7 linked regions of the Homo sapiens genome follow. The protein of the gene in region 1 purifies or fractionates together with the protein of each later gene. This does not show direct contact. Each region holds a gene or a part of one and is shown on either strand. Other genes may lie near its edges. The genes, in order: UHMK1, CNOT2, TNKS1BP1, BTG3, CNOT1, VBP1 and CNOT9.

Region 1 (3,500 bases):
GTCTCTACTAAAAATACAAAAATTAGCTGGGCAAGGTGGCACACACCTGTAATCCCAGCTACCCAGGAGGCTGAGGCAGGAGAATCACTTGAACCCGGGAGGCGAAGGTTGCAGGGAGCTGAGATTGCGCCACTGTACTCCAGCCCGGGCAACAACAGAGCAAGACTCCATCTCAAAAACAAACAAACAAAATCTAACTGGGCGTGATAGCACATGCCTGTAATCCCAGCTACTTGGGAGGCAGAGTTGGGAGGATCACTTGAGCTCAGGAAGTCGAGGCTGCAATGAGCCAAGATCACGACACTGTATGTGCTCCAGCCTGGGTGACAGAGCAAGACCCTGTCCCCTCCCTGACCCCACCCCAAAAAGGAATAATGAATCTATTCCTGATTTTTTTTTTACCTGATTCTTAATTATGCCCAAACCTATAGAGCAAAGTTCGATAAATGAGTAGACATGCATTTATAGAAGGAATATCATGTTTTCTATCATACTCCTTGCTTCAGATAGGCTATACTTTTCTATACTACACCATCCCACACTAAGAAAGGCATCTTATTTTTATAAATTATGAAATTAATAGGGCTGTATCATTTTAATTCTGATTATTTTTATAATTGCATTATCAGATGCATTCATTATTTTTCAGTGTTTTTTGTAACATTCCTTATAAAATCATGTTTGCTTGAATTAAAAATTCAAATGAAGAATGGCTTCGACAACTAGGTAATGGACATTTTCAAAAGCCTAGATAGATTAAATCTGTGATTCCAAGAGTTTATCAAAAGCTGCTTTCACTCTCCTTTAAATGTCAGTGAAAACTTCTCAAAATAGCAACTTTCCTCTCACTGATACTTTTTTCATATCATCTTAAACCTGGATACTTCTCTCTGGAAAAGACTTCTCCTGTCTCTCTATTCTGTATCTTCCACTTCATTTTGACCACTGGGGCTAATATTGAGTCAGATCATGTCAGTCCTTCATTCGAAATCTTCCAATACCTCGCCCTAGTTCAGAATAAAAGCCAATGTAATCTCAATACTCTACCCAGCTCACTCTACTTAATAAGCCCCCTACCACTCCCTAATCTCTCTGATCTAATCTCCTACTATTCTTCTTTCTCACTCTGCTACAGCCACATTGGCCTCCTCAAATCTGCCAGGAATACTCAGGGCCTTGGATCTTGCTGTTCCTTTTGCCTAACATTCTCTTCCTCGCTTCCCTCAAATCTTGATTCATATGACCTTCTCAGATGTCCTTCCCTACTAACCCATTTAAAAGTGCAACCCACCCTACCTACCCCAGCACTCCTTAAGTTTCTTCCTTAATCTGTTTTTCTCCCTAGCACTTATCACCACACTTTTAAAAATCTGATTTGACCACTTTTACAATGGGTACCTAGAACATAATAAATGCTCAATAAATATCAGTTAAATGACTAAACAGCAAGGATACAATTATACATATTAGTATTCAGTACGTGATACTAAATGTAAAACTATTATCACTAGTTTGGCAATAACTTTTCATTAGGACTAGAATAAAACTGTGCTCATATTTTTGTTTTCATATTTTTTCAGTTGTCAGGAATGTTCATAATACTAAGCTATTAAGATAAAATTATAGCTGGGCACAGTGGCTCACGCCTTTAATCCCAGCACTTAGGGAGACTGAATCGGGTTGGATCTCTTGAATTCAGGTGTTCAAGACCGCCCTGGACAACATAGCAAAACCTCGTTTCTACAAAAAATTAGCCAGGTGTGGTGGCACATGTGCTTGTAGTTCCAGCTACTCGGGAGGCTGAGGCAGAAGGATCACTTGAGCCTGGAAGGTAGAGGTTGCAGAGAGCTGAGACTGCACCACTGCACTCTAGCCTGGGAAACAGAGTGAGACCCTGTCTCAAAAAAAAGATACAATAAAATAATCCACCACCAGAGATGACTTCACCCCCTAGAGGACAGACATCTGGCAGTGTCTAGAGACATTTTTTTTGTTCAAAGTGGGTAGAAATCAGGAAAGCTGTTAAACGTTCTATAGTGTAGAGGACAGCTACTCCAACAAAAGAATTATCAGGCTCAATGTCAATAGTGTCAAGAATGAGAAACCCTAAGGTAAAGCAAACCAAAATTCTATCTCTCAAAAAATAAAAATACTACAAATAAATATCTTCTTACATTCTTTGTCATATAATTTAATTTGGAATTAGAGTTTCTAAAGAAAATGCGGTGATAACAGTTTTAGCCCACACATTTTAAAGATGAAGAAAATGAGGATCATCACAAAGCTAATCATATTGAGGCTAGAACTCAGGTTCAAGAATTCTCAGTCCAGCACACTTTCCTTCTTTAAACTATCACTGATAGTTTCTATTACAATTAGAACCTAACCTAATTGGCTTTCTAACTCTACCTAATTAGAACAAAATTAGACTAAAACATTTCTCCAGCTGAACCTGAAATAAAGCATGATTTAGCAGTTGGTGTTACTGTTTTTTTTTTTTTTAAGATGGAGTCTCGCTCTGTCACCCAGGCTGGAGTGCCATAAAGCAATCTCAGCTTGCTGCAGCTCAGCCTCCCAAGTTCAAGCAAATTTCCTGCTCAGCCCCCTGAAGAGCTGGGACTATAGGCACCTGCCACCACATCTGGCTAATTTTTGGTATTTTTAGTAGAGAGGGGGTTTCACCACGTTGGCCGGGCTGGTCTCAAACTCCTGACCTCAGGTGATCCACACGCCTCGGCCTCCCAAAGTGCTAGGATTACATGCATGAGCCACCTCACCTGGCCTGGTGTTACTGTTTACAGTGGCTCAAAAGTAGTTTTTTTTTTTTTTGAGATGGAGTCTCACACTGTTGCCCAGGCTGGAGTGCAGTGGCATGACCTCCACTCACTACAACCTCCACCTCCCAGGTTCAAGCGATTCTCCTGCCTCAGCCCCTCCAAGTAGCTGGGATTAGAGGCATGCGCCACCATGCCCAGCTAATTTTTTGTATTTTTAGTAGAGAAAAGGGTTCACCATGTTGGCCAGGCTGGTCTCAAACTCCTGATCTCGTGATCCGCCTGCCTCGGCCTCCCAAAGTGCTGGGATTATAGGCGTGAGCCACTGCGCCCAGCCAAAAGTAGTTTTTTTTTTTGAGATGAAGTCTCACTCATTTCTCCTGGCCCAGGCTGGAGTGCAGTGGCAGGATCTTGGCTCACTGCAACCTCTGCCTCCTGAGTTCAAGTGTTTCTCCTGCCTCAGCCTCCCAAGGAGCTGGGATTACAGGCATGTGCCACCACGCCTGGCTAACTTTTGTATTTTCAGTAGAGACAGGGCTTCACCATCTCTGAACTCCTAACCTCAAGTAATCCACCCACCTCAGCCTCCCAAAGTGCTGGGATTACAGGCGTAACCACCACACCCAGCCAATATTTAAAAAAAAAAAAAATTTTAAGTGCTAAAAAAATGCAAGCATATTATAGAACTTTTAGAAGAAGTAAAAAGTACAAGTCAGAATATAAAAA
Region 2 (3,500 bases), on another chromosome or scaffold:
CAAGAGCAATACTCTGTCTCAAAAAAAAAAAAAAAAAAAAAAAGATTTGGGGTTTTTAATCATAATGAAACCACAAACATTTACTGGGTGTTGAGCAGAGGAGTAATGTATTAAAAAAGGATTGTCTTGGCTGTTATATGAAGAGATTGTACGGGAAGGGGTATAAGGACAATCAGGGACCCCCAGTGACTGGCTAATGGAGTATTCAGGCAAGAGAGAATGATTCAAACAAGGGTGGTAGCAGTTAAAAGTAGTGAGCTTTGGTTAGATTCTGTATATATTTTGGGAAAAGCCTGATTATGGGGTATAAAAGAAAGAGGAGTTAAGAATAATGCCAAGTTTCTGGAAGTACAGAGTTACCACTAACTGAGATTGGAAAGGCTGTAGACAGAATAAGTTGGGGGGTGATCATTCAAGAAATATTTAATTGGCAATTGAATGTAGAAATCTCAAACTCAGAAGTGTGGAATGGAAACATATGTTTGGGATTCCTCAATATATATGGTATTTAAAACAATAAGACTAGAAAAAGATCATCAAGGATGTAAATGCAGAGAAGAGGAATGACACTGAGGTCAAGAAGAAAAGGAGGAGGTACCAGCAAAGGAAACTGAAAAAGACCAACCAGTGAAGATGAGGTAAAAATGGTGCTCTCAAATTCAAGTACAAGAATGTGTATCAAGGAGCAAGAGTTCCTCCAAGTGACCACTGAATTTAATAACATGAAGGTCATTTGGTGACCTTGATAAAAGCAGCTTTAGTGAAGTGGCAGGGACAAAATCCTGACTGAAATGGGCTTACCAGAGAATGGGAGAAGACCAAGTCGGAGAAATGGAGATGACTCTTTGAAAAGTTTCGCTTCAAAGGGAAATAAAGAAATGGGAAAGTAACTTACGGAGGAGGTTGGATCAAAGGAAGATTTTCTTCTAAGATGAGAGAAGTAACAATGTATTTCTATGTTGATGAAAATGACCCAACAAAGTGTGAAAATGTGTTGTAAGTAGAACGCATGGGTCAATTATGGTAATAGGGTGGAAAACAAGAATAACATAGGTGTAGGTGGCTGTAGGTAGTCAGATTTGTTGGCTAGACTGTGCTAAATGTGCTCTTCTAATTGCTTCCATCTTTCTTAGTACAGTAAAAGTGAAAAGCAAGATCATCATTTGATAGTAAGAATAAGGAGAAAAGGTATTAGGGGCATGCAGAAGTGTACGATAGTTGCATAAGAGAGCAAAAGAGTAAATGGACTAAGCATGCAAGGTATAATTATCACTGGTAGAATTAAGAGCCTACTTTTGAGGCTCCTGGGCATGAAAATAAAGGAAGACCAGGCAGTGATATCATGTGTTTTTCTCTAGCAGAGCTCAGTAGCACAGGTCAGGAATGAAATAGGCAGAAACAATCAGTACTGTAGCTTTGGCCATGCAAGTATAACAACATGAGAAAATGGCAAGTAGTCATGGGATATGTAAATGAACAATTATGACTGACCACAGAATTTCATGGGTAAGAAGGGAGTTGATCACAGGGGAAAAGAGACGGGGATCTGGAAGAACAGTTAAAATACCGAAGAATCAATAGATTGAAGGTCCCAATGGAGTGAAATGATTACAGGAATCACAGTACTAGAAGAAGAGAAATAGAAAATAGAAAGTGGAAGTCGGAAAGCATGCGAGCTCAGATTTTAAAATTGAGAGACTGCAGTTACGAACAATGACTAGGTCAAAGGGATAACTAAAGGAGTGGCTGAAGTATACTACAGGACAAAAATTCCTGGAGGAAAGAAATTCAAGGAGCTGAGATTTCAGGATTCTGGAAGGTGTGTGTGTGTGTGTGTGTGTATATATATATATATACACACACACATATATACATGCACATGCACACACACACACACACACACACACACACACACACATAAAATGCCAAATTATAAAAGGAATACTGCAGAGTGACAGTGATCTAAGAGCTAACATGAATGGGAATGACCCAGAGAATCAGCAGGTTAACAATGAGTAGCAGTAGGTGAGATAATTTGATGACATGATATTAAAAACTGGAAGTCTGAAGAGGTATTATATACAGACATGGAAAAACAGAAAAAACTTACTCAGGAGAGTTCAGATTGAGGCCTAATGTTGTTAAGTCACTTCCTAATGCAAGATGTACCATTCCTGGGTCTGTCTCTGCTGCCCTGATAAATGTTAACAGGCCAATCATTCCAAATTGGTCCGTCACCATCCCTTGAGGAATGTTAGTAACCCGACCTGGGTAGGAAAAACACAGTTGCTTTTATTTTCAAGAAAAAGTTAAAAAATAGAAAAAAAAGCATTCTATAATATCTTTGACATAGATTTCTAGAGTCCCACCATCAGGTAACACCTGGATCCCTTTTTTCTGCTGGTTATTATTTTGTGTTGTTGAACTTTTATCTCCAGGGAATTTGGGTCCATCTGTACTTGAAGTTGTCTTGCCAGATGTATTCAAATTCTAGCATGAAAAAAATTAAATGTGACATTAAAATTTGTTAAGTATACAAATTCAAGTTCACATATTAATACCTTGCTATTTATTCTTTATTACATTTAAATTGGTAGTTAAATTATTACCTGTTTTTCAAGTTCTATAGAAAATTGTTTCCATCATTGTTCCATGGTATACAAATAAATCCTATATCATCCACATTTGAGTATTTAAAGAAAAAGAAATCAAGGGAAAATATCTTATTTATCTCAGATCTTCAGTCACAGAAAAAAAAAAATCTATCTCTTTCTCAGGTCTTTATGCTTTGGGATACACTTGAAGTTACACTCCTCAATGCTTTCATGTAAAAGAGAAACTAAATATAGTATATTACCTAAAATCACCAAAGCTACCTTGAAGATAAGTTAGACATACAAGCTTTAAAACTTTGTACTTATTTTAATTCTTACCGATCTTCTTTATCAATTATTTTAATAATATATAAACTCCCATCACACACAGAGAAAAGCTATTTTCAGTGAAATGTGGAAGAAATAAACATATTTGTTAAGTCAGAAAGAAGAAGCTGAGTTGGTTGAATCAACACAGGTATAAAAATGTGTATAAATTCTTCAAGGAGAAAACTTACTCAAGAAAAACACAGCTCCTTAGAAGGCTATATTATCAAACTTCATGGGATCCAGCTGACAGGGACTACAATAAAAGTCTAAATTAACTCTGAGAAGTTCAACAGAAATTTGCAAACCTATATGAAATAGGAAAAAAATAGGCTATCTTCTAAGTTATAAAGCTTTTCCACATTCTTCAGAAGTTAGGTTATTACAGATATCAAGATAAAACAGTTTTGTAATAGTATTTAGTAAGTAATTGTTAATATAAGAGAAATCTGAAGGGAAAAACTACATCACTCACATACACACTTCTCAGTTACTTACAGATTTACTGTCATCATTACTTGATGTTGGATCTTTATAGCTGGAGCCTGGTAATGCTGGAAAATCTTCATTGTGTATTGA
Region 3 (3,500 bases), on another chromosome or scaffold:
GCCCCAGAGCTAGTCCTTTGCCTGTCCCAGACCAGGGTGCTGTGAGGTCACACTCTTGCCCAGGCTGGGTTCCACCCGCCATCTTCCTTCTCTCCCTCACTCCAAGTAGGGCTTAAGAACAACTTCAACCCTGGAAAATCACTCTTTCCTCTTCCCCTCCCCCACTGCAATTCTTCAAGAAGTATTGGCAGGGCAGCAGGACCAGCTGCACTCTTCCTGGCTAGAGGAGAACTTTAACTCCTTATGGGTTAAAGGAAAGAGGAGTTATCTTTTTAGGAGCTGTTGAGAGGTCTGGGCATCCAGGATGCTTTTCCTAAAGTAGCTGGGGAATTTAACCCTTCATGCTCAGGTAGGGAATAAGCACTGTTTTCTGGGGCACTTGCCGAATGGAAAATGGACAGATTCTGTGTCCCTAATAGTTGCAGGCAGGGCTCAAGAGTAAATGGCTAGGAGGGTTTAACCTTTGGGTGCTGTTAAAGTTGCACTGGGAGACTCTCCCACATTTTCCATTCTGTGACAGACTCTAACATTCCGTGCTTCCATTTCCTGTCCTCGTCCCTCACAGGAGCCTTCCTTCCGACCTGGCCTTCAACGGGGACCTGGCTAAGGCAGCCAGCTCGGAGCTACCTGCTGATGTGAGTTATCCTCCAGTTATGAATCAGAATCACGTATTTTAGAGCTGGAAGGGTCATATGAGATCATCTTTTCTACTCCTTGTAGTTCAGATGGGGAAACTGAGGCCCATGGGGAGAGTGACTCACTGGAGGGCTGGCCCTGGGATTTTTCGACTCCTGGGCCAGTGCTCTTGATCACCAAAGTGGCTAGGTGTGGTTAAGGCCATGAGGCCATTCATCATAAACAGTAATGATAGTATCCACAACAACTGCCATTGATTAAGTCCCTACTATGTGCTGGGCCTGTCCTGGGAACGTTAACCAACTCAATCCTTGTGATAACTCTGGCTAGTAGACCTGGTTAGTCCCATGTGAGAGATGAGAGCACCTGTACTCACAAAGGGTAAGTAACTTAGGCTGAGGCAGCAGCTACTGTGTCTGCCTCCCATGCTTTCCCTGGCTGGGCTGCCTTTTCTGAGTTCAGAAGAGGGGTGAGTCCTTTTGCTGAGATTTTCCCATCATACTCCCGTTCTTGAAGATGGTCAGCCTGCTTTCTTGAGTAAACAAGGTACAGGATGGCCCTTTTTGCTCATACAGCCCTTGCTAGCTGGAGATCTGACTTGATTCATTTGTCCATCCAGCAAGCAGTGACTGAGCGCCTGTTAGGAGCTGGATGTTGGAGATAGCTGTGAAGGTAGAGTAGAGAGTGCAGGGACGAGTGTGGTCAGGGAAGGTGTCACTGTGAAGGGCAGAGGCTGAGCTGTGTGCATGTCTGGAGAGCAGCATTCTTGGTAGAGGGCACAGCAAGTACAAAGGCATTGGTGCTTTCCTGGCAAGGAGGCCAGGATGTCTGCCTGGCAGTGAGAGAGGAGTTAGGTGGTAGTGAGGACCAACGGGTTGGGGGGTTGGATTGTGTCAAGTCTCGAAGGCCTCTAGAAAGACTTTGGCTTCAGTGAGAGCAACAGGCCATTTGAAGGGTTTGCAGGAGAGGCATGGGATGCTGCTGTCTTAGTTGTGAAGAGTCACCTGGCCCACTGGATTAAGAATCAGTTGCAGGGAGGTAAGATCAGCAGCATGGACCAGTCAGGGGGCTGTTGGAATAGTCCAAGTGAGAGATGATGACGGCTTGGACCCTGGAGGTAGCCTACGGTGGAGATGGGGAGAAGTGGTTGGTTCTGGATAGAATTTGAAGGCATGGTGGAAAGGACTTTCAGATAGATAGAGAGCACAGAATCAAGGGTGACCCCACGGCTTTTGGCCTGAGCAACCGGAAGGATGAGTTTATGGTTGCCGAGACGGGGACTTCTAAGGGTGAAGCAGGATCGGGGGAGATGGGAGGAGTTTGCTTTGTGGATTTGTTGAATTTGAGATGGTTTTCAGACATCCATGTGGAAACGTCAAGCGGATGGTTGGGTAGTCGAGTCTGGCCTTCAAGGGAAGTGAGCAAATTTGAAAGGAACACTTGGGAATTGTCAGAGTAGGAATGCTTGTGAAGACTGGCTGAGATTACTGAGAGTGGGGATGGTGCAGGAGGGGAGGGCCCAGAGGCACAGCCAAGGAGACTGGGAGGACAGTGAGAGAGTCCACCAAGTGGAGACAGCCTCCAGGACTGGGGGAGGGCGCCATCAGCTGTCAGATGCCACTGACAGGTCAAGTAAGATGAGCACAGAGAATTGGATTCAGCTCCAGGGAGGTCATCCGTGACCTTGACGAGAGTAGTTAGGTGGCAAGGTAAAGGAGAAAGCCTGTTTGGAGTGGTTTCAAGAGAGAAGGGGACAAGAAGAACTGTGGATATTAATAGTGAATATAGACAGGGCTTTCAAGAAAATGGATGGTAGCTAGTGAGTGATGTGGGGTCAAGAGTGGTTTTTTGGTTTGCTTTTTTGGCTTTTCAAGACAGAAGAAATTAGAGCAGTTTGTGTGCTGATGGAAATGATCCAGTAGAGAGGGAAAAAAAAATCGATGCAGGAGAGAGAGGAGGGATTGACCTCAGCCCCAAGCGAGGACAGTGCCTGATAGCAGAAGGGGAGGCAGAGTGCTTGGGCTCCCATGCAGGAAGTAGGTGGTGTGTGTGTGTGTGGCGGTGGGGGGGTTGTCGGGGGTTCTCTGCTGGTGGCCTCTGTGTTCTCAGGGAACAGGAAGCAAGGCCATCAGCTGAGAGAGGATTGGGGGAGGTGTGGAGGTCTGACGGGAGAAGATGCTAAAACATTGCCTGGGAGAGTCATGGAGTGAATGGCAGGGGGAGTGCCGTGGGATTCTGGGCAGCTCTAGGGCCGGCTTGAGGTCAGCAGTGAATCTGGAGTGAGACCAGCTGTCACGATTGTGTGTTTTTATCCAGCCACATGCAGCTACTCAGGTGCTGGGCTAGGATTGGCCCAGCTGTATTGGAGAGCTGTATTTAAACAGGTTAAACAGTATGATGAAGCAGATGAGGGAGTTGAGTGTTGAGTAAAAAGTGACGTTAATGGTGATAAGAAGAGAGGTGAGGGTATGAGGGGAGTGGGGGACAATGAGAAAGAATTAGGGTTAAGGGGCTGTGCTATGAGAGGGGCTGAAAATAAGGGCGTTGGGGAAATAGAGTGAGCCGGTCAGATAGGCGGTGGGGGTGGGCAAGTGGGATACTTGGGATTGAGATGATGCAGAGGTTGCAGCCACTGGTAAGGATGAGGTCTAGGGTGTGACCTTGAGAGGATGGGTCGCACAGTCACTGAGGAAGAGGAGGTCAACGAACCAGAGGCTGGAAGGGTCGCATCTGGCTATGGAGATGACTGTAAGCTATCACAACAATGATGGAGAGGGTTGCAGTGATGCAGCGGTTATGGTTTTCAAGGAATGATGGGTGCGTAAGGGTCAATAACAAGAAAGAATTGTGGGTGCTGTAGTTTA
Region 4 (3,500 bases), on another chromosome or scaffold:
TTTATGAATCTAGCTGCTTCACATCCTTGCTAACATTTCATGCTGTCAGGCTTTTAAATTGTGCAGTTCTGGAAGAACTAGTGTTTCATATGGATTTAATCTGCATTCCTCTGATCATAAATGAGGCCATTCACATAACTCCTTTTGTAAAGTGTTTATTCACATCTTTTGCTCCTCCTGCCCTTTTTTTGAGATTACAGCAGGATATGCCCATTATTTTTCATTGAATCATTTACCTTTTACTAGTGATTTGTGAGCGATTTTAAAAAAAGTATATTCTGGAAATAAGTCCTTTACAGATATATGTAATGAGAATATTTTGTCCTAGTCTATGGTTTGCCCATTTTCTTAATGGTTTCTTTGATGAACAAAAAGATGATTAATTTTGATGAAGTCCAGTTTGTCAATTTTTTTCCCTTATTAGTTACTTTTTGTGACCCTCTAGAGGAAATATTTGCCTGTCACAAAATAAAGATTATATTTCCCTATGTTTTCTTCTAAAAGCGTCAGAGATTTATCTTTTATGTCTAGGTACACAATCCATCTCAAATCAATATTTTTGTGTATGGTGTCAGCTAAGTTAGGTTCGTTTTTTTTCCTACACAGATCATCCAGTTGTTTCAGCACAAGTTCTTGAAGACTTTCCCCATTGAATTGCTTTGGCACTTTTGTTAAAAGGGAGAAAAAAGACTAACTGTATGTATGTGGGTCTACTTCTGGACTCTCTATCCTGTGCCATCAATATATTTGTATGTTTTTAAACCATTACCACACTGTCTTGATGAATATATAATAGCTTTGAATTAGTGTGAGCCCTCCAACTGATCCTCCTTTTTTAAAATTTTGAATCAATTTGTCACTTTCCAGAAAAAAACCTTTTAAGATGTTCATTGATACTGAATTGGATCTACAGATCTATTTCAGGAGAACTGACACAATCTTCATTTCTTCGTTTTTTAAGATATGAATAATTCTTTATCCCCTCTCTTGGGATACCTTTTAGAAAACAGTAGAGAACAAAAATTCCAAGCTAGAAATTTTGTTGTCCTTATTTGATAAAACTTTTTTAAAGCTTGTGGCAATGCCAGATTCAAGATACTAGAAAGAAGAAAATCAAAGTGGGCCATTTGCACTAGCTTTCACACAAGTAGTGTTTCTCTATTATAAAATGTTTTGCTAATGAGTATTAGGCCAAGGAGAAATGTTTTCCTTAAAAAGCACGTAAGAGACACCTCAATTTCCATACCTTTCTGTTATCCTAATAGTCTTTCAACATGAGGGAAAATAAATGCAATTTAATTTTAAAAGAAATCCTAAAAATTAAAGGTTAATTTGCTTGTAAAAAATTAGCAGCAATCAATTTAATTTGAGACTTACATTCTTGCTTAACAACAAATAAAATTCTGAGGTAAAATTGCCACACATTTGGATGAATTCCAGAAAATTCAATATACCTAATTTGCAATATATAATCCATCACACAGAGAAAAAAAATGCCTCAAATATTTATGGCAAGGTTTTTAAAAATGATCCTGAAGTACAAATACTATGTTTACTTATTTATATAGGGAATGTCTCTGGAAGGATACTAAAAAAAAGAAAAAAAAACCTGGTAATGAATGTCTCTGTGGAAATGCATAGGGACTGGTGGTTGGGGAGAAAGAGGACTTCTCACTATTATACTGTCTTGTACTGTTTGAAGTTTCATAAAGCCAGGTACATGTTATATACATATACATATACATACACATATACATAGAATCCTAAATTATGATAATCTTCAGAAATAATCTTCCCCTAAAGTCTAGGAAGAATAATTCAACTGAGAAAAAAATGAGAAAACCAAAAATTAAGTTACACTGAAATAATGTTCATTATGTAAATGTATGCTGAATTTAAAAGTTTAGTTTATCATACTAAAAGCTCCAATATTCTGCTTCTTACTCATTAGGTCTAAATTTTCATTTTCAGCTCAACCTTACCACAAACCTGGTATGTTTCACATTTAATCAAAGCAAGTAAGTAAAAATAGATAACCTTTAAAAATTAGTAATAAGTACATTTACAGAATAAGGCTCAACTCAAAAAATCTCTTTAAATTGTTATGACTTTAAAATATCTTTCCTGTTGAAGAATGCTGTTTGGTCAACAATTTTTTAAAGTCGATTAAATGTTCTTTGGTATGTAGATATAAATAGTAAATCAGTGAATGGATCTGTAAGTGCAGGCACACTAGCTATATGACTTTTCAACTAGTAAAGCAAAAAGGGAGACAATGTTTCAGCTTGAGTAAAATATTAATTATAATATAATAAATTTAGAGAGGTTTCTCTTTAATCATGGAACGGGAGAGAATAGAAAGTTAAACCCAAAGGTACAAAACAAAGTGTTACATACTACAAAAAATAAGTGGTAACTTTTGAATGAGATTTTAAAATATCAGGAATGTTTTACCATCATGAATTTTCTACTTTTTGCCAATTTTTCTGAAATATATTTATCCTAGTTATTGTATAGTGAAGCTGACCTTTGATAAAATGACTCAGGATGCCTATTTACGTGCCAGAGAAACAGCTTTCCCTTAGCATGGGGAAAGGCAAGAACTATTATCCAGAATCTCAAGTCAGAAACCTTGGGCAATGCCAAGTAGGACTACCTGAAAGGTCCTGGCAATCCCTGCACATCCCTTTAAAACTGAGCTGTTTTCATGGTTACCTGGTACACAGGACTTGCGGCTGCAGTCACCGAACTGGGTTTCACTTCCATTTCCTTACTTGTTTCTTCATCTGAAGAAGAGGATCCTGAATGATAATCAGAGGTAACCTTATCAAGGGCCCTGGTAACTTTCCTGGAGATCTCATCCTTGTTCTCATCTTTATTTTCAAAGCTGGCAACAATGAATGCATTGTTTTTCTCTCCATACCTAAGAATAAAATTAAAAACTTACAAATCTTGAAGTCACATCAGCAAAGCAAAAAATGTCCATAAAAACAAAGAGATCTGGACATGCCATCAATACAAGGCAAAGATTGAATCATCACAGAACTTGACCCTACACATTTAATATCCTAATACAGCTCAATGCCAGCAAGCAAACCACAGTTTTCTACTTCTGGTCTATTTAAGTATTCATAAACATAACCCCATTTTCTTTCCCTTATTTTCTTTCTACTAATTCCTAAAAAAAAAATTGTTTAAAACATCAAAAAAAGTCCATTGTTTTGATTACATTTTTGTATGTACCAATGAAATTGGTTGTACAATAAAACATTCTGATGTATTTTTATTTTTTTGAGATGGGTTTCACTCTGTTGCCCAGGCTGGAGTGCAGTGGCACAATCACAACTCACTGCAGACTCTACCTCCTGGGCTCAGGTGATCGATCCTCCAACTTCAAACCTCCCAAGAGGCTGGGACTACAGGAGTGTACCACCATGCTCAGCTAATTTATATACATTTTTAGAGACAGGGTTTCACCATGTTGCTGAGGCTGGTCCCAA
Region 5 (3,500 bases), on another chromosome or scaffold:
CAGCTCATCAATGCACTGGTGCTCTATGTCGGGACTCAGGCCATTGCGCACATCCACAACAAGGGCAGCACACCTTCAATGAGCACCATCACTCACTCAGCACACATGGATATCTTCCAGAATTTGGCTGTGGACTTGGACACTGAGGGTGAGTGAAGCCTGCCAGTTTTCAGAGTAGAGTTCTCTGTGCTTTTTGCTACAATCTGATCACAAAAATGTAAAAATGCTTCAAGCCACAATAGTGAAGGAATGTTCTGTCAGTATATTTATTCACAGGTCTAGCTGATTATTTTATCTTTAATTGGACATTATCTGCTCAGTGCAGGAAATACAAAAAAGCATAAAGGAAAGAATTATCCAGAATCGTGCAGTATCAGTTTTGGTGTATGTGACTGAAGTTTTTTAGTGTGAAAATAAACTTAAAGTCCCTTTAAACATAGCCTCTTGTTACATTGTTTTGTTAGGCTGCCTTATATAAGCATTTTTATTGGTGCGTGTTTGGCAGGCATCTTGTTAAATGTTCATGTATAAAGATTAATGAATAGGACTCTCCTGTTCTGCAAAAAGCTCACAGTATAACTCCTGTTGCAGGTTGCAGCTTTTCTGCTTGAGCTACATTTCATTTGGTCCTCTATATTTATCTTATAAAATAGAGACCCCAGTTAGGTGCTAACTAGTTGTACAGTCCTGTCCAGTTTTGCATACATATATTTTAGGGGGACACTACTCTTTAACTTTGCTATTGATTCTTGAGAGATGAATTGATGTTGCATATATGCTGCATGCCTATATGTGGGATGGATTTAAGACAGCTTAAATTCAAGATATAACAAAATTGAATACCATCACGTCCAAGAGCTCGGCAATAAAAGGACGGCAGCCTTTAGAGAAACGTGTCACTGTGACAGACTCACAAACACGAATAATGTCAAGCAGAGGCAAACAACCAAACCCAATTAAGATAATACTTATTCCAGTGTAGTTTAGACTAATCAAAATGTGGGCTGGGTACCCTTAGGGTGTCAAGACCTTTTTAGGAGGGCTGTGAGGTCAAAACTTTTTTTTTTTTTTTTTTTTGCGATAGAGTCTTGCTCTCACACCCAGGCTAGAAGGCAGTGGCGCAATATCGGCTCACCATAACTTCCGCCTCAGGGGTTCAAGCGATTCTCCTGCCTCAGCCTCCCGAGGAGCTGGGATTACAGGCACACGCCACCATGCCCAGCTAATTTTTATGTATTTTTAGTAGAGATGGGGTTTCACCATGTTGGCCACGCTGGTCTTGAACCCCTGACCTCAAGTGATCCACTTGCCTCAGCCTCCCAAAGTGCTGGGATTACAGGCGTGAGCCACCGTGCCCGGCCCAAAACTGTTTTCATCATAAAACAACATTTACATTTTTGGGTCTATTCTGTCATGAGTGTACAGTTGAATTTCTCAGAGGTTACATGAAATATACTGTAACAAGTTGAACACAGAAGCAGAAATGAGAATCCAGCTGTCTTTTATTAAGCAAGACTTAGAGATCTGCAAAATGTAGAAAGACTTAGTGATGAGTGTCACCAGAAAATAGTTCATGTTTCTTACATTAGCACATAGTGGGTCTGTTTTTAAAAATGAATATTTTTAAAATCTAATTTCTAATGTGGAAAATTCTGAAATAAAACGCACAGAAATGAGAACTCTTTGGGGTCCCAAGAACCACTGCTTTAAACCAAAGATTAATTTGAAAGCCTCTGTCAGAAACCCAAACCCTAGCCAGTTAGAACTGTCTTCCCATGTTGGCCTTTCAGACTAAGTCCTAAGTCAAGGTTTCTTAATTTCTAGGTCGCTATCTCTTTTTGAATGCAATTGCAAATCAGCTCCGGTACCCAAATAGCCACACTCACTACTTCAGTTGCACCATGCTGTACCTTTTTGCAGAGGCCAATACGGAAGCCATCCAAGAACAGATCACAAGGTAAGCGAGCAGCTTATTTTTTAAATGCTTCAAAAGGATCTCCTCCCTTTCATCTTTTTTTTTTCCTCTTTATGCTTTCAGTGTTCAGTGAAAATCCGTTTGGTTGGTTTTTTTTTTGTTTTTTTGAGACGGAGTGTTGCTCTGTCACTCAGTCTGCAGTACAGTGGCGCCATCTTGGCTCACTGCAACCTCCGCCTCCCAGGTTCAAGCGATTCTCGTGCCTTAGCCTCTCAAGTAGCTGGGATTACAGGCGCCTGCCACCACGCCCAGCTAATTTTTGTATTTTAGTAGAGACGGGGTTTCACCATGTTGGCCAGGCTGATCTTGAACTCCTGACCTCAAGTGATCCACCCGCCTCAGCCTCCCAAAGTGCTGGGATTACAGGCGTGAGCCACTGCACCCGGCCTTCAGTGAAAATCTTTTACATGTCCAATAATGTGTTAAATGTGGGATACAATTGTGAGCAAAATGGATGGTTCCTGCCCTCTTAATACTCATTCTGATGGACATTTATCACAAGATAGGGAATTATAAATCGCAATCATGGCTTAAATGAAAAGTAGTTTACCACAAGGCACATTTTGATTAAAGGTCAGGAGTTTCTCTGAGGTGGTGGTGATAACCAGTCCTAAATCATGCAGGCCTATGAAGTCTATGTTAAGGAACTTGGACTTTTCCTCATTACCTCTGGGTTGAAAGCAGTAGCAATAACAGGATCATACTTGCATTTTCCTAACAATAGTTAGGAATCTGTTGCCAGATTGCCTAGACTACATATAGCATTAGAGAGATTGTGATACACACACACACACACTTTAAAAATTGGGCCAGACTCTTAAAACTTGCTCATTTGCCTAATTAGTCACCTATGGTGCTAAATATGGTATTCCTTTGATTTGTGTACTAAAATTTAATATCTTATTGGATGCTTAGATGATGATGATCCATTTTGTTTATATAAAGCTGCAGTAAGTCTCCTTGGACTTGTAATCTTTGTTATGCTTCATGTACAGTTGGTACGTGAAAGGATATAAAGTTAAGCCAATGCTTACTGGCATTCGGAAAAATTTTACCAATTTACATGTGAACTAGCAATGTTAGCTTTTTTTTTTTTTTTTTTTTTTTTTTTTTTGAGACAGTCTCGCTTTGTCGCCTCCTGAGTAGCTGGGATTACAGGCACCTGCCACCACGTCCGGCTAATTTTTTGTATTTTTAGTAGAGACGGGGTTTCACCATCTTGGCCAGGCTGGTCTTGAACTCCCGACCTCGTGATCCACCCGTCTTGGCCTCCCAGAGTGCTGGGATTACAGGCGTGAGTCACTGTGCCCAGCCTGCAGTGTTAGAATACTTAATTCTTATTTTCTGTTTCCTTTTTATTGAGAGTGAGCTTATTTATTTATTTAATTTATCTGTTTATTTGAGACAGGGTCTCACTCTGTCTCCCAGGCTGGAGTGCAGTGGCACCATCTCGGCTCACCACAACCTCCACCTACTGGGTTCAAGCGATTCTCCTGCCTCAGCGTCCGACTGCTGGGATTACAGG
Region 6 (3,500 bases), on another chromosome or scaffold:
TGGTCCAGGCCACCTTTGTCTCTTGCCAGGACTGTGGGAATACTGTCTATTAGTTTTTAGGGATGCCATAATAAAATTACCACAAACTGGGTGGCTTTAACAACTGAAATGGACTGTCTCATGGTTCTGGAGGCCAGAAGTCCGTGATGAGCCCCAGAATCAGGGTCGATTCCTTCTGAGAGCTGTGAGGGAAAATCTGTTCTAGCCTCCTCTCTTAGCTTTGGTGTTCGCGGACAGTCTTTGGCATGTTGATGTGTAGAAGCATCACTGTGATCTCCGCCTTCATCTTCACATGTGTGCATGCATGTGTCCAAATTTCTCCTTTTGAAAGACCTTATCTCCAAATAAAGTCACATTCTGAGCTACTGGGGGTTAGTAGTCCAACTTATTTTTTGTTGGGGAGACAGAATTCAATCCATAATACCTTACTTCCACGTAAGGTCACATTCGCTAGTATAAGGGGTTAAAACTTAAATGTATCTTTTTTGGGGACACTGTTTAACCCATAATAATACCCTAATTCACTGTCTTGCTTCTGCCCTTGCTGGAATTCCTAAAGTCTTTCCAGCACAGTGGTCAGATTAATCCTTTGAAATCTCAATCAGGTCATTCCATTATTCTGCCCAAAATCTTTGAATGGTTTCTTATCACATTCCGAGGAAAAGTCCAAGTTCTTTGAGTGGCTGACAAGTTCCTATACATCCTGGTACTCTCTGTTACTTCTCTCTTTTTTTTTTTTTCTGAGACAGAGTCTCACTCTGTTGCCCAGGCTGGAGTACAGTGTTGTGATCTCAGCTCACTGCAACCTCTGTCTCCCGGGCTCAAGCGATTCTTGTGCCTCAGCTTCCTGAATAGCTGGGATCACAGGCACGTGCTACCATGCCCAGCTAAATTTTTTGGTAGAGACGGGGTTTTGCCATTTTGGCCAGGTTGATCTCGAACTCCTGGCCTCGGGTGATCTGCCCACCTTGGCCTCCCAAAGTGCTGGGATTACAGGTATGAGCCACCGTGTCCAGTCTCTCTGTTCTTCTCTTACTTCCTCGCTTGGCCACACTTGGACTTCTTGCCAGACTTAGAGCATGCTGGGAATGGCCCTGCCTCAGAACCTTTATTCTAGCTCTTTCTTCTGCTTAAGCTGCCAGAGTAGTGCTTTTAAAACATGTCAGATGATTCCGCTTTTCTGCTCAAGACCCCAGTGGTTTCCCTGTCACCAAGGGTGGAATACAGAGGTGTCCTTTCCACAGGACAGCCCTACTCCCTCTCAGCACTCATTTATGCTCATTCTTTTGCTCACTCTGCTGTAGCCATGGTGGCCCCCTAACTGTTCCTGGAACCTGCCAGTGTGGCCCCACATTTCTACTTCTGTGTTCTTCACACTCAATCCTTTGAGTTCTCAGTTCTGATTGTTAGCTCCCCCAGGGACCTGCTATGACTTGTCTGTCAGCATTTCTTGGTTTCACTTGTACTGTTTATCTTGTATTGTTTTCCTTCAAAGTACTTAGCACTCCCTGATATGTTATTGATTGGTGTATTTACCAGTTCCCTGACACATAATAAGTGCTCAGTAAAAATTTTTCTTGGGTGAATGACATTTTTGTTAGTTTTTCATCAGAGTTCATACATGCTAATGGTTCAAAGAGCAAATAGAAAGCAGCAGGCTACTGCTCCATCCCCAGATGCACCCACTTTTAATCATGTCTGTACATCTGTATGTACCTAAATATTTGGAATTTTGTTAATTGTTTTTACAAAAATGGGATATATATTGTATATTGTTCAGCACAGATGTCTTTATTTGTGAGTAGACACAGAGTTTGCCTCCTTGGTTTTATTGGCTTACTATTCTGTGGTAGGGCTATGTGATAATATTCCCAAGTCAAGGGGTGTTTGGATTGTTTTAAAATTTCTTGTACAGTGAGCGGTGCTGTAGTAAATATTTTTGCACATATAGACTTGTATACAAAGGCATATTTTTGTATGCTGCTTTGAAATGGAATTGTTGTGTCTAAGAGTATGCACATTTAACATGTTGATGGATACTATCAAATTGCTCTCCAGAAAAGACTACCAATTTTCATTTTCTCCAACCGTATATAAAAATACCCTTTTATTAACAGTCTCACCCACATTTTTAGATTTTTGCTAGTTTTATAGGTGAAAATAGTATCATCTTATAGGTTTTTGTATGACAAAATGCTCATTTGTATTTCCTCTTCTGTTTCCCTTCCTGACTATGTTGTTGCTCCATTTTTCTGTTGGATTCTTTTTCTTTTTTTTTTTGATAGACATTTAGGTCTTCTTTATATATTATGTATTTCGGATGCACAGTCTTCTCTTAATATTGCAGATACTTTTTCTCATCTGTCACTTGTCTTTTGTGGTAGCTCTTAGAAGTTTTAAATTTTAATGTAATCGACTTTATCAGATATTTATAATTTTATCTTAACAGTGTACTCCTTTCACCAAATCTGCAAACATTTTTTTCCTAATATTTATATACTTAAATTTTTTAGAAAACTTTTTTGTTAAGGATAACATGGAAAGATAAGCAACTCCTCAGGATAATGGGTGAGTGACTTCCAAAAAGAGGGCCTCCCAATGGCCAGTAAACATATGAAAAGTTGTCCCACTTCATTAGTAAACAGGGAAATGCAAATTAAAAGCACAATGTGATCTCACTGTGTACCCACCGGAATGGTAGGGTGATACTAAGTGATGGTAGGACATGGAATAGTGAGAACACTGATTTACTGTTGGTGAAGGTGTAAATGGACACAGCCACTGGGGAAACTGGCAGTATCTGTTAAAGCAGAACATATGCATTGCCTATGCCATAGCAGTTCCATGCCTGTCTCTATCTCTTTCTGCCTCTTGCTGTATATAAGAAATGTATAAATATTAACTAAAAGAAAGGTATAAGAATGTTCATATCAACTCTGTAGTAACCAAAACCTGGAAACAACCCAAATGTTCATCATAGTCGAATGGATGAGTAAATCATGATGTGTTCAGACTGTGGAATACTATACAGTACAGAGGAGGAATGAACTGCTGCTACACGCCAGCACTGCAAGGGTGATTTTCACAAACAAGGTTGAGTGAAAGAAACTGCATAGCAAATTACCACAAACTCAGAGGCTTAAAACAATATCCATTATCTCCTAGCTGTATAGGTCAGAAATCCAGATGGGCTTGGCTGGGTCCTCTGTGCAGGGTCCCACAAAGCCAGAATTAAATTGTCAACAGGGCTGTATTCCTTACTAGCATCTCTGGGGGAGAATTAGATTTCAGCCTTATTCACGTTATTGGCAAAATCCGGTTCTCTGTGGTTGAGGTCCCTGTTTCCTTGCTGCCTGTCGTCCAGGAGTCAGTCTCAGCTTCTAGAGGCCACCTGCAATCCTTGGCTCATGGTCCTTTCTGTTTTCAAAGCAGTGATATGACTAGTCTTTCTTACACTTTAGATCTTTCAAACTTCTCATTCTGCTGCCAGCCAGAAAAAG
Region 7 (3,500 bases), on another chromosome or scaffold:
ACACAACTGCAAAAACACGAAAACCTACACATAATTTTAAGGAGTTCACAGAGTTCCTGCAATGTATCCATGTACCCAGGATTAAGAATCTGTTTATCAAATTGAAGAACAGGAAAGACCTCAATTTGCAAGGAACTACATGTGTATATAATTGGAACACACACTGGCGTGGGAGCCTGAAGTGACTTCAAAATCCAGTTTTGCTCTTTCTAGAATTGTGTGACCTAGGATAAGTCATTTAACTTTCCAAACCTCAATTTTCTCATTGTTAAAGTGAAGGAACTATATTAAATAATTGTCAGTCTCAGGCAACTCTAAAATCTTAGAAATTATTTAGTTCTTAGTTGTGAGAGTCTAATCTAAGAGGCTCTTTTTTTAAAAAAAAAACTTTGACGTATAATTTGCATACAATAAAAGTGAACTCATTTTAAGTGTACGCTTCAATAGATTTTTGAGAAATTTATACACCTAAGTAACTGCTACCATAATGAAGATATAGATCCATTCACCCCAAAAAGTTCTTTAATGCCCTTTTCAGTAAACCCCATACTCAGCCTGAGGCAATCATGGGTGTTTTCTGCTACTATAGATTAGGTCTGCCTTTTCCAGAAATTATTAATATGCAGTAATATTTATTGAGCATACCATGTTTCAGGCACTGTGGATTACATCATTTTATTCTCAAAATTCTAAGAGGAAACAGGTTAATAGAGGTTTAATGTGCTCAAGGTCACACAGCCAGTGTACAGCAGAATGAGACTGAAACTCTACTTCTCTCTAGAATCGATGAGTTCTATCTGGTCTCAAGGATAGAAAGCACAAATACTCCTCCAAGTTGAAGAAATTACTCTTAAGAACCCAAAAAAACTTTCTTAAATTTAATATTCCCTTAGCACAGAACTCATTAACAGCTGGATTTGGATACACAGTGAGCTCAATTACATACCTGGACACATAGAATCATCATGAGAAATCTGATTTAGATTATGAGTTATCCTTAACACTTCCAAGAATAGAAAAAAGCTCTATAGTACATTACCGTAGATTATTAATTGTAACCTGCTAAAGTCAACAGTCCTGGCCAGGCACAGAGACAGGTTCACACCTGTAATCCCAGCACTTTGGGAGGCTGAGGCTGGTGGATCACTTGAGGTCAGGAGTTTCAACACAGTGAAACCCTGCCCCTACTAAAAATACAAAAATTAGCCTGGTGTGGTGTCGTTTGCCTGTAATCCCAGCTACTCAAGAGGCTGAGGTGGGAGAATCGACTGAACCCAGAAGGTCGAGGTTGCGGTGAGCCAAGATCACACCACTGCACTCCAGCCTGGGTAACAAAGCGAGATCCTGTCTCAAAAACATAAAATAAAATAAAAAAATAAAGTCAACAGTCCTGTTCTTTTAATAAGTGTGTTAAAAAACTTTCATATTATCAAAATTTAGGTGGTAACTCTCCCTCCTTTTCTGTTTAATGATTTGTATATGGAAAATGTATTTCAAATGACACCTTTTTTCCCCAAGAAAGCTTAACATACAGATAAGGTATTTACCAAAGTAAGTTACCAATGGTTAACTCCAAGTGTCACACAGGGTACTGACAGTTTAAGTTGGTCTTCTATTTCTGAAAGATTTTAACACATAATGTGAAAAGTATAAAGATGTTTATAAATTATTTTAAATAAAACATGACATTTATCTATAAATGGTAAAGAAAATGATTTCCTTCTCTGAGTAAACTAAAAAATTGATGCTGATGGTTTCTTAAACAGAAAATAGCCAAATTATCAATGTAACTTTATGTTTAAGGGCCAAAATAGCTGTTTATTTTCCTGCCAATACATAAAGAATGGAATCAGACTGAAATAGAGATTATTTTCCCAAGTCTGGAGATCAACACGTGGATTTGGGTGTCAGCATGGTATTCCAAGAAAATGAACTTTCTAATAGTGCTGGAAGTACTAAATTAGCTTACCTTCATAATTTTATAAGAGCCAGAATGTATCTTTTTTTTTTTTTTTTTTTTAAGATGGAGTTTCGCTCTTGTTGCCCAGGCTCGAGTGCAATGGCACAATCTCAGCTCACTATAACCTGCGCCTCCCAGGTTCAAGCGATTGTCCTGCCTCAGCCTCCCAAGTAGCTGGGATTACAAGCGCATGCCATGACGCCAGGCTAATTTTTCTATTTTTAGCAAAGACGGGGTTTCACTACGTTGGCCAGGCTGGTCTCGAACTCCTGACCTTATGATCCACCTGCCTCAGCCTCCCAAAGTGCTGGGATTACAGGCATGAGCCACCATGCCCGGCCCAGAATGTATTTTTTCAAAATAACTTTTAAAAAATGAAAGTGAATAAGGAAAGATAAGTTAGGCAATTTGCCTAAAGCTTCATCAGGAGACTCGGGAGGAGAAAGTGAATTAAATCCTTTAGAGTGCAGTGTTCTTTCTACTTGCCAAAAAGGAAGGCATCTGGCAGTCCATGACAGCTTCAATAAAAAGATGTAAAATAACTAATGATGCTGCTGGTTAGGCGGAAAGTGAGAGAAAGACAAGTGTTTAGGGATGCTAGAATTGTCAGTGGAAATCAGTGGGAAATTAAAAACAAAACAAAACAAAAACACATCCCCTAAAGGCTTACCTCCGGTTGTTTCACAAGCATAACATCCATTACAGAATACCTATGGCATGCAAAGATTTGTAGTTTTCTTTTTCCTTTGAGACAGGGTCTCACTATGTCGCCTAAGCTGAAGTGCGGTAGCATGATCATGGCTCACTGCAGCCTGGAAAATTTTTAAACATTTTTTGTAGAGATAGGTTCCTACTGTGTTGCCAAGGCTGGTCTTGAACTCCCGGCCTCAAGTGATCCTCCTGCCTTGGCCTCCCAAAGTGCTGGGATTATAGGTGTGTGAGCCTTTAATTTGGGAATTAAATTCCCAAAGCTGAAGTCTGGGAACAAGTCACATATCAGTGAGTGAATCTAGCCAACCACTGAGCATTTTGTTATTCTTTCTTTCATTTTTTTTTAAAGATGGAGTCTTGCTCTTGTCTCCCAGGCTGAAGTGCAATGGCACGATTTTGGCTCACTGCAACCTCCACATCCTGGGTTCAAGTGATTCTCCCGCCTCAGCCTCCTGAGTAGCTGGGATTACAGGCGCCTGCCACCATGCCCAGCTAATTTTTGTATTTTTAGTAGAGATGAGGTTTCACCACGTTGGCCAGGCTGGTCTGGAACTCTTGACCTCAGGTGATCTATCCGCCTTGGCCTCCCAAAGTGCTGGGATTACAGGCATGAGCCACAGTACCCGGCCGCATTTTGTTATTCTTACTTAATCTTTAGAATAATCCTGTGTGGTACTTCTGTCCTTATTTATTAGAGGAGAGAAAAAAGAAATTATGCTCAATGGTAGCGGTAATGAATATATGAAGATGTTAGGATGTATTCCATCAAGAATGACAACAGCAAGGTCGGGCGCAGTGGCTCATGCCTGTAATCCCAGCACTTTGGGGG

Evidence for each region.
Region 2: the proteins of UHMK1 (region 1) and CNOT2 purify together in Homo sapiens (affinity purification with mass spectrometry; one large-scale study listed by BioGRID and IntAct). This does not show direct contact.
Region 3: the proteins of UHMK1 (region 1) and TNKS1BP1 purify together in Homo sapiens (affinity purification with mass spectrometry; one large-scale study listed by BioGRID and IntAct). This does not show direct contact.
Region 4: the proteins of UHMK1 (region 1) and BTG3 purify together in Homo sapiens (affinity purification with mass spectrometry; one large-scale study listed by BioGRID and IntAct). This does not show direct contact.
Region 5: the proteins of UHMK1 (region 1) and CNOT1 purify together in Homo sapiens (affinity purification with mass spectrometry; one large-scale study listed by BioGRID and IntAct). This does not show direct contact.
Region 6: the proteins of UHMK1 (region 1) and VBP1 purify together in Homo sapiens (affinity purification with mass spectrometry; one large-scale study listed by BioGRID and IntAct). This does not show direct contact.
Region 7: the proteins of UHMK1 (region 1) and CNOT9 purify together in Homo sapiens (affinity purification with mass spectrometry; one large-scale study listed by BioGRID and IntAct). This does not show direct contact.

The regions. Positions count from the first base shown.
Region 1 is NC_000001.11:162,518,318-162,521,817, reverse strand, and holds part of UHMK1 (serine/threonine-protein kinase Kist), read right to left. Parts: intron 1-3,500. UniProt on the Homo sapiens protein: Upon serum stimulation, phosphorylates CDKN1B/p27Kip1, thus controlling CDKN1B subcellular location and cell cycle progression in G1 phase. May be involved in trafficking and/or processing of RNA.
Region 2 is NC_000012.12:70,337,433-70,340,932, reverse strand, and holds part of CNOT2 (CCR4-NOT transcription complex subunit 2), read right to left. Parts: coding exon 3,420-3,500; intron 3,178-3,419; coding exon of another isoform or gene 3,148-3,177; exon of another isoform or gene 2,514-3,147; intron 2,491-2,513; coding exon 2,370-2,490; intron 2,268-2,369; coding exon 2,111-2,267; intron 1-2,110. UniProt on the Homo sapiens protein: Component of the CCR4-NOT complex which is one of the major cellular mRNA deadenylases and is linked to various cellular processes including bulk mRNA degradation, miRNA-mediated repression, translational repression during translational initiation and general transcription regulation.
Region 3 is NC_000011.10:57,314,953-57,318,452, reverse strand, and holds part of TNKS1BP1 (182 kDa tankyrase-1-binding protein), read left to right. Parts: intron 1-565; coding exon 566-635; intron 636-3,500.
Region 4 is NC_000021.9:17,595,902-17,599,401, forward strand, and holds part of BTG3 (protein BTG3), read right to left. Parts: intron 2,924-3,500; coding exon 2,716-2,923; intron 1-2,715. UniProt on the Homo sapiens protein: Overexpression impairs serum-induced cell cycle progression from the G0/G1 to S phase.
Region 5 is NC_000016.10:58,521,827-58,525,326, reverse strand, and holds part of CNOT1 (CCR4-NOT transcription complex subunit 1), read left to right. Parts: coding exon 1-148; intron 149-1,484; exon of another isoform or gene 1,485-1,824; coding exon 1,825-1,957; exon of another isoform or gene 1,958-3,500.
Region 6 is NC_000023.11:155,229,960-155,233,459, forward strand, and holds part of VBP1 (prefoldin subunit 3), read left to right. Parts: intron 1-3,500. UniProt on the Homo sapiens protein: Binds specifically to cytosolic chaperonin (c-CPN) and transfers target proteins to it. Binds to nascent polypeptide chain and promotes folding in an environment in which there are many competing pathways for nonnative proteins.
Region 7 is NC_000002.12:218,571,839-218,575,338, reverse strand, and holds part of CNOT9 (CCR4-NOT transcription complex subunit 9), read right to left. Parts: intron 1-3,500. UniProt on the Homo sapiens protein: Component of the CCR4-NOT complex which is one of the major cellular mRNA deadenylases and is linked to various cellular processes including bulk mRNA degradation, miRNA-mediated repression, translational repression during translational initiation and general transcription regulation.